Linked DNA regions of Homo sapiens: region 2 is linked to region 1. Evidence: fine-mapped expression QTL. Tissue or cell type: cerebellar hemisphere. Region 1 holds a variant in brackets; the other region holds the start of a gene. All regions are shown on one strand. Distances are between the middles of the regions.

Region 1 (4,197 bases):
TTTATTCACTCCATTATCACCAGCTTCCCTGAGCTGCAGATCAAAGATTAATTTTGCAAAAGGAGGAAGTCCATTAATCATTGCCTAATTCGTGAAGGTGCCCGGTGGGAATGCAAGTTCTCTCAAAACACTGGCTGAGAGAGAAAGAGAACATCTAGCTGAGGGAGGCTAGTGTTCGAAAGTTCAAAGTCGGGCAGAACTGATCGATGGTGAGAGAGATCAGCATAGGGTTGACCCCTGAGGGATATCAACTAGGGAGATGGCCCGGGAGCTTTCTAGACAGTTACCCATCTTGCCACAGACAGTGGTTATCTGGGTACCTATTGATGCAAAAATTCACCCAGGTGAAGTCTGCGAATGTAGACACTTCTCTAGAGTTTATATAAGTTATACCTTGATAAAAAAGTTTTTTAAAGTCACAGGGGCCAGGTGCAGTGGCTCACGCCTATAATCCCAGCACTCTGCGAGGCCCAGGCGGGAGGATTGCTTGAGCTCAGGAGTTGGAGACCAGCCCGGGCAATATAGTGAGACCCTATCTCTAAAAAAAAAAAAAAAAAAAAAAAAATACAAAAATGAGCCAGGCATAGTAGCATGCGCCTGTAGTCCCAGCTACTTGGGAGGTTGAGGTGGGAGGATTGCTTGAGCCCAGGAGGTTGAGGCTTCAGTGAGTCGTGATTGCGCCACTGCACTCCAGCCTGGGTGACAGAGCAAGACCCTGTCTCAATAAAAAATAAAAATAAAAAATTATAGGGACTGATATATCTAATCTCACACACACACACACACACACACACACACACACACACACACACACACGGACAGATACATGATAAAGCCAATTCAGCAGACGTTCCTTGTAGGATCAGGTGGTGGGATATGGGTGTTCGCTGTACGGTTTTCTGCATGTTTAGCATTTGAATAAATGTGTGATGCAGTGTATGATTCTGTTTATGTGAAATATCCAGAATAAATAAATCCACAGAGAGAAAGCAGATTAGTTGCTGCCAGGGGGAAAGGGGAGGTGGGGAGTAACTGTTAAGGGTGTGGGGTTTGGCTCTGGGGTAAGGGAAATGTTTGGGAACTAGATCGAGGAGATGGTTGTGTAACATTGTGAATGTATGAAATGCCACTGACTTGTACACATTACATGGTTAATTTTATGTTATGTGAATCTCCCCTCAATTAAAAAAAATGGAAAATTCAACAGAACTGGGAAATGAAATAAATAGTAGTATCTTTAGCAAAAAGAACATAAGAAAAAGATTGTGTGATCCATGTAGTCTTCAAAGCCTAGCTTCTTTTTTCAAGTGGGTTCAGTTGAAGTTAAAAAAATAGGCCGGGTGCAGTGGCTCACACCTGTAATCCCAGCACTTTGGGAGGCCGAGGTGGGCAGATCACAAGGTCAGGAGTTTGAGACCAGCCTGGCCAATGTGATGAAACCCCATCTCTACTGAAAATAAATAAATAAATAAATTAGCTGGGCGTGGTGGTGCCTGCCTGTGGTCCCAGCTACTTGGGAGGCTGAGGCAGAAGAATCACTTGAACCCGGGAGGTGGAGGTTGCAGTGAGCCGAGATAGCACCACTGCACTCCAGCCTGGACAACAGAGTGAGAGACTGTCTCCAAAAAAAAAAAAAAAAAAAGAAAGAAAGAAAGAAAAAATTGTTCAGGCCAAGCACACAGTGGCTCATGCCTGTAAATCCCAGCACTTTGGGAAGCTGAGGCAGGAGGATGGCTTGAGGCCAGGAGTTCAAGACCAGCCTGGACAACATAGCAAGGACCTCTGTCTCTGCAAAAAAATAAAATAAAAATGGTTCAAAATTACCTATTTTGAGTCAATACTTCAGGGAAATAAAATGAGAAGGTTAAACCCTCTTCCTTCTTTCTCTCTCTCTCTCTCTCTCTCTCACACACATACACAAAGGTCAAACAGATATACACCAATATGTTAATAGTCAGTAGATACCTCTGGTGGTGGAATTCTACATGACTGACTTTATTGATTGATTGATTGATTGAGGCAGGGTGTCCCTCTGCTGCCCAGGCTGGAGTGCAGTGGTGTCATCTCTGCTCACTGCAGCCTCAACCTTCCGGGCTTAAGCGAGCCTCCCACCTCAGCCTCCCAAGGAGCTGGGATTACAGGCACACACACCACCACACCTGGCAAATTTTTCATATTTTTTGTAGAGACGAGGTTTCACCATGTTGCTCAGGCTTGTCTGAAACTCCTGGGCTCAGGTGATCTGCCTGCCTAGGCCTCCCAAAGTGCTGAGATTACAGGCGCGAGCCACCGCACCCGGCTCATGATTTTAATTCACTTTGTTATGCTTGTTTATCCATCGTGAAATGTGTGTGATGAACACATATTATTTTTGTTATGAGGAAAAAAGAGACACACCCCCAAAAGATGTTTTCCATTTA[A/C]GAAGGAAAGAAATCCACCACCACAGGGGGCCTCAGATGGCAGAGGATGTAACTGCAAATGACAAGGGGAGCTGATGGGAGGGAACAGGTGTGGGGTGGCCAGGCAGAGGCCAGGGAGGCAGGAGGTGGAGGCCCAGGGGGGCATGGAGGCGGGGGCCCCAGGCAGGAGGCCAGGGCAAGGCCCACTCCTGGGGCCCCTGCAGGGGATAGCTGGTGGCAGAGAACAGAGTCTCCACTTATCTGCCCCCTACACCCCCGTGGACTGTGCCCACCCCAGCCCACCTACCCGCTTGGGTCTCTTGGCTGCTGTGGACAGGCCTTCAGAGGGTGGGCAACTGGGCCATCAGGAGCAGCCAAGGGGGTTGGATACCTATGGCTGGGCCTGGGGACAGCAGCTTGGCCGGGTAGACCTTGACCTCCCTCCTGACCTCCCCACCCTCAGCCTCCCACTCCTCTGGTCCCACCTTTTTTTTTTTTTTTTTTTTTTGAGACAGTCTTACTCTGTTGCCCAGGCTGGAGCGCAGTGGCACGATCTTGGCTCACTGCAACCTCCGCCTCCCGGGTTCAAGCGATTCTCCTGCCTCAGCCTCCTGAGTAGCTGGGATTATAGGTGTGCACCACCACGCCCAGCTAATTGTTGTATTTTTAGTAGAGATGAGGTTTCACCACATTGGCCAGTCTGGTCTCAAACTCCCGACCTCAAGTGATCTACCCACCTCGGCCTCCCAAAGTACTGGGATTACGGCCGTGTGAGCCATTACGCACCTGGCCTGGTCCCACTTCTTAGTCGCCCCTGCATAGGGATGCCAGATGAAATACAGATCACCACTTACACTTGATTTTCAGATAAACAATAAATAATGTTTTAGCATAAGCCTTTCCCTAATAACACATGGGCTTTCCTGCTACTAAAACATGATTTGTGTTCTGAAATTCAAATGTAACTGGGCATCTCATATTTTATTTGCTAAATCTGGTAACTCCACCTGCAGGCCGATGCTGGCACCATCTCTGTCACTGACTCATCATCCCAGCCCCTTCTAAACCTCAGTTGCTCCAGGGTACAAAACAGGCATCAACCCAATCGCACCGGGCTGGCGCTGGTGGAAGGTTTAAAGAGAAGGTGACCATTCCAGCGGCTCGTGAGTCCCTCAGGGTACAGAGGCTTCATGCCGTTGAGTCCACTGGGCAGTTGTTATCCCCATGTTACAGAAAGGGAAACTGAGGCACAGATAGGGGAAAGTGATTTGCCCAGCTATTTTATCTCTCTTCTCCAAAAAAGGTGGAGAAAGACCTGCACCCTGAGTGCTGGCAGCAGTAGGATGAGCAGTGAGAATGATATTGACGATAATAGCCCTGTCCTATACCTGCATAATCTCATTTAATCTTTACAACCACCCCGCCAAATGGGAACCATCACTCCTGCCTGCTTAGAGAGAATCTCGTTCATGGGGAGGTGGGATGGCTCACTTGTCCAAGGTCACCCAGCAAGGACAAGGCTGGGCTGTTTCCATAGAGCCTGACCCCATGGCACTCCTCCAGGCAGGAGACGCTTTCCACAGGGCCCAGGAAGAGGGAGGAACTTAGTATCCGGGAGGTACTAGTATTAACGACAATGGCCAGGTTCCTCTCACAGAGCAGGGCTTCCTGACCTTGGCACCCCTGCCCTACAGTGCACGGTAGGGTGTTCAGCAGCATCCCTGTCTCCCCTCCCCAACTGGACGCCAGGAGGACCTTCCTTCCAAGCAGTGACAACCAAAATGTCTCTGCATGTTCC
Region 2 (4,197 bases), 110 kb before region 1:
CACCCACGCTAGAGTGCAGTGGTGCCATCTTGGCTCACTGCAGCCTCTGCCTCCTGGGTTCAAGCGATTCTCCTGCCTTGGCCTCCCGATTAGCTGGGATTACAGGAGTATGCCACCGCACCCAGCCAATTTATTTTTTTTGAGATAGTCTTGCTCTGTCACCCAGGCGGGTGTGCGGTGACATGATCTTGGCTCACTACAGGCTCCGCCTCCTGGGTTCAAGCGATTCTCCTGCCTCAGCCTCCCAAGTAGCTGGGATTACAGGTGCCCGCCACCACAGCGGGGTAATTTTTGTATTATTATTATTTTTTGAGATGGAGTCTTGCTCTGTCACCCAGGCTGGAGTGCAGTGGCGAGATCTCGGCTCACTGCAATCTCTGCCTCCAGGGTTCAAGCAATTCTCCTGCCTCAGCCTCCTGAGTAGTTGGGACTATAGGCGCGTGCCACCATGGCCGGCTAATTTTTTGTATTTTTAGTAGAGATGGGGTTTTACCGTGTTACCCAGGATGGTCTTGATCTCCTGACCTTGTGATCCGCCTGCCTCGGCCTCCCAAAGTGCTGGGATTACAGGCATGAGCCACCACACCCGACCAATTTTTGTATTTTTATCTTTTTTTTTTTTTGAGATGGAGTTTTGCTCTTGTTGCCCAGGCTGGAGTGCAATGGCGTGATCTCGGCTCACCACAACCTCTGCCTCCCGGGTTCAAGTGATTCTCCTGCCTCAGCCTCCCTAGTAGCTGGGATTACAGGAATGTGCCACCACGCCTGGCTAATTTTGTATTTTTAGTAGAGACATGGTTTCTCCACGTTGGTCAGTCAGGCTGGTCTCAAACTTCTGGCCTCAGCTGACCCGCCTCTGCCTCCCAAAGTGCTGGGATTACAGGCGTGAGCCACTGCGCCCGGCCCAATTTTTGTATTTTTAGTAGAGGTGGGGTTTCGCCATGTTGGCCAGGACGGTCTCAAGCTCCTGATCTAAGTAAGTGATCTGCCCAACTTGGCCTTCCAAAGTGGTGGGATTACAGGTGTGAGCCACCAGGCCAGGCCAAATATATTAAGTATTATAAGTAATCCAGAGATGATTTAAAGTATAGAGTATATGCACAGGTTATATGCAAATACTGCCTCATTTTATATCAGGGAGTTTATAGCATCTGTGGATTTTGGTACCCACGGAGGTGCTGGAACCAATCGTTGAGGATTCCAAGGACAACTCTATGATGCAGGCACACCTGTCCTAGCTGCTCAAGGGTCGTGGGATGCAGGTAGGTTTTCTCCCCCTTCCCCCTCCCTCCCACCCACCTTCTCTCCCATCTCTCTCTCTTTCATTCACGAAGTCAGCAGTGGCCAAGCACACAGGTGTTCCCAGCTGCATATCTGGGATACTGAGGAAAGGTAAGAAGTCTCAGGAGTGAAGAAGCCACAGGCCGGCGTCTTCCTCCCTGGGCCTCCAGCAGTGGGGAGCCAGGGAGCGCACCTGCTGGGCCTGGGCCCTCTCCCCTGGGCTGGGCGGCCTCTGCTGGCCCTGGGGAGGGCGGGGCTGGTTGCCAAGGCCTCAGGTGGTGTGGAGCCGGAAGCAGGAAGCAGCCTGTGCTCCCCAGGACCTGCCTGGTTGGGGGAATTGGAGGCTTCTAGGAGGTAGGTGGGGGCCTGGGGGCTGGGCTGCCAGGGGGAGAGAGAGGGGAGATGACAGTGGCTGGGGAGAAGGTTGTCAGGGTAAGGACCACAGGGCTGGGCAAGGAGAGAAGCTGGGCCTGGGGCCGAGGGAGAAGTGGAGTGGGAGGGGGTGGGGAAGCTGGCGCTGGGCCAGGAGCGGGCAGTGGCTGGGCTGTGGGAAGCCTGGATGTGGTCCCCGCTGAGCTGAGCCCAGGATCCTGATGCAGCCTCTGGGGGACCGGGGCAGGTGGCACGGTGCACGCCAAGATGGCTGTGTCCACAGAGGAGCTGGAGGCCACGGTTCAGGAAGTCCTGGGGAGACTGAAGAGCCACCAGTTTTTCCAGTCCACATGGGACACTGTTGCCTTCATTGTTTTCCTCACCTTCATGGGTAAGTGTGGCTGTGGCCTCTGGGTCCTCCCAGCCCCCTGCCCTGGGCTCCAGGTTGGGGCCACACCTGGACGCCTGTCCTGTCCCCAGGCACCGTGCTGCTCCTGCTGCTGCTGGTCGTCGCCCACTGCTGCTGCTGCAGCTCCCCCGGGCCCCGCAGGGAAAGCCCCAGGAAGGTGAGCCCCTGGAAGGTGAGCCCTGCCGGCCTCTGGGACCTGCACGGAACTGTACTGGGGGTGGAGGCGGAAGGTGAGGGGAGTGGCGGGAAGGGTGCTCATCCCCCTAGGGAACAACGAGCGAACCTGCTTGGTCCCGCTGTGCTTCTCGTGCAGGAAAGACCCAAGGGAGTGGATAACTTGGCCCTGGAACCCTGACCCTGTGTCTCCTGCCCGGTGGCAGTAACAAAGCCTTCTGTCTGCCCAGAGCCTGAGTCTGCAGTGTCTTCCAGTCCCCGTCTGGGTGGGTGACGCGGGACTCGCCGCCCCACTCAGGTGGCCACCTGGCCTCTCCAAGCCTTCAGTCAGCACGACTGTGCCAGGTCATCCTCAGTCACCTAGCTGGGAGGGGAGCTGGTCTCAGGCCGGGCGCGGTGGCTCACACCTATAATCCCAGCACTTTGGGAGGCCGAGGTGGGCGGATCACGAGGTCAGGAGATCGAGAACATCCTGGTTAACGTGGTGAATCCCCGTCTCTACTAAAAATACAAAAAATTAGCCGGGCGTGGTGGCGGGCACCTGTAGTCCCAGCTACTCGGGAGGCTGAGGCAGGAGAATCACTTGAACCCGGGAGGCGGAGCCTGCAGTGAGCCGAGATCGCGCCACTGCACTCCAGCTTGGGCGATAGAGCGAGACTCCGTCTCAAAAAAAAAAAAAAAGACTCGGTGGCCCAAAGTCCCAGGTAGAGCTCTTGTCGCCACCCCATGGGCTTCTTGGCAGCCCGAGGGTCCCCTCTCGACAGTAGGTTCTGTGCCCTGCCCTGGCATGGCACAGGGAACGCGGAAGCCAGGCTCCGGGAATAGGGGAGACGGCTGGCTCCTGAAGCTCATGGCCACTGACTACCAGAGACCCCCTGCCTGGGTTCCCACTCAGACAGACAGACAGGGGCTCCAGGTGGAGTCTGATGATCTTTATTTCTTAGACAGCCCTGGACTGGGGCTATGAAACACAGTCACCAGCACTATACTCACTCCTAGGGTGGCTCTGTCTGTGGCGTTCCTCACCATCCCCGGGACTCATAGCTCAGTGCCACCCCCCGACACCATGCCCTCCAGGGGGAGGGGACAGCGAAGGGGAGAGGAGGGAGAGCCCTGCGCCTGGCCCTGTCCTGAGTCCAAAGATTCCCATGGTGATCAGAGGGCGGTGTTGGGAATGTGGGACACCCTTGGCCCCGCCTCCCTGACCTCCCCACTACCCCACCAAACCAGCCTTCCTTCCTCCTGGCACTTCCAGTGTCCATTCCCGGCAGTGCAAATGTGTTAGGTGGGGTAGGGGGTGGGATAGGGAGATAAATAGCAGCCTGGCGTTGGCACTGGCTGGTGCTCTGTGGTGGGTATGAGTAGGGGACGGGGCCGCCTTCCTGGAGACAAGCTCCTGGGTGCTGTGATCAGAAGGGTCTGTAGCTCCAGTAGCTGGAGAACACGGAGATCTGCAAGGGGAGAGGGTGCTGTAGGTTGCTGAAGGGGGATGGGGTAGCCCAGGGGAGATGTCAAGGTCACCCAAGGACAATATGTCAGGACAGGGCATTGCTGCCTCGCAGTGCTGTGGGGTACACCAGACCCCAAGGTTGGGGCGCTCTGAGGGTGTGGCAAGGACCCTTAGAAGTCCTTCCCCTAATGAAGGCGCTCGGCCCGGGCCCACCTTGTCCTTGAGCTGCTGGCAGAGCTGCAGGGAGACGGTGAAGTAGACCAGGGCGTCGTTGAGCCAGGGGATCACGCACTCCACTTTGTGCACGTGGCTCACCTCCAGGCGCTGAGAGCCCCACTCGCTGTGGGCAGTGAGAGGGTCCCTGAGGAGGGTCCCGGCCCTCCAGGTGTGGAGGGATGGGGTGGGCGTGCCTGGACCCCCCGCCCCTGCCTACTTACAACATGGCCCCAGGGCTATGCAGCACCGCGCCCCCAGCTGGGCGGAAGTTCTAGGGAGAACAGCACCAGACCCG

Evidence for each region. PIP is the estimated chance that this variant, and not a neighbour inherited with it, causes the effect. A credible set is the group of variants that fine-mapping cannot tell apart.
Region 2: it holds the start of SMIM22, and the variant in region 1 is the best candidate, but not a certain one, in a credible set for the expression of SMIM22 in cerebellar hemisphere (GTEx, PIP 0.73).

The regions. Positions count from the first base shown.
Region 1 is chr16:4,906,540-4,910,736 of GRCh38, forward strand. All of the region lies in intron 2 of PPL (periplakin), which reads right to left. The region is part of intron 1 of LOC124903637 (a long non-coding RNA gene); the gene reads left to right. Among named protein-coding and RNA genes, the nearest start is that of PPL, 29 kb to the right of the region's middle. The variant A/C (reference allele first, on the strand shown) is at 2,421.
Region 2 is chr16:4,793,815-4,798,011 of GRCh38, forward strand. It overlaps SMIM22 (small integral membrane protein 22), which reads left to right and starts at 1,555. Exons shown (of 4, transcript NM_001253794.2): 1 at 1,555-1,635; 2 at 1,901-2,044; 3 at 2,134-2,234; 4 at 2,376-2,677. The coding sequence starts at 1,921. The coding sequence ends at 2,417. It overlaps ROGDI (rogdi atypical leucine zipper), which reads right to left. Exons shown (of 11, transcript NM_024589.3): 9 at 4,124-4,173; 10 at 3,900-4,026; 11 at 3,154-3,687. The coding sequence ends at 3,646.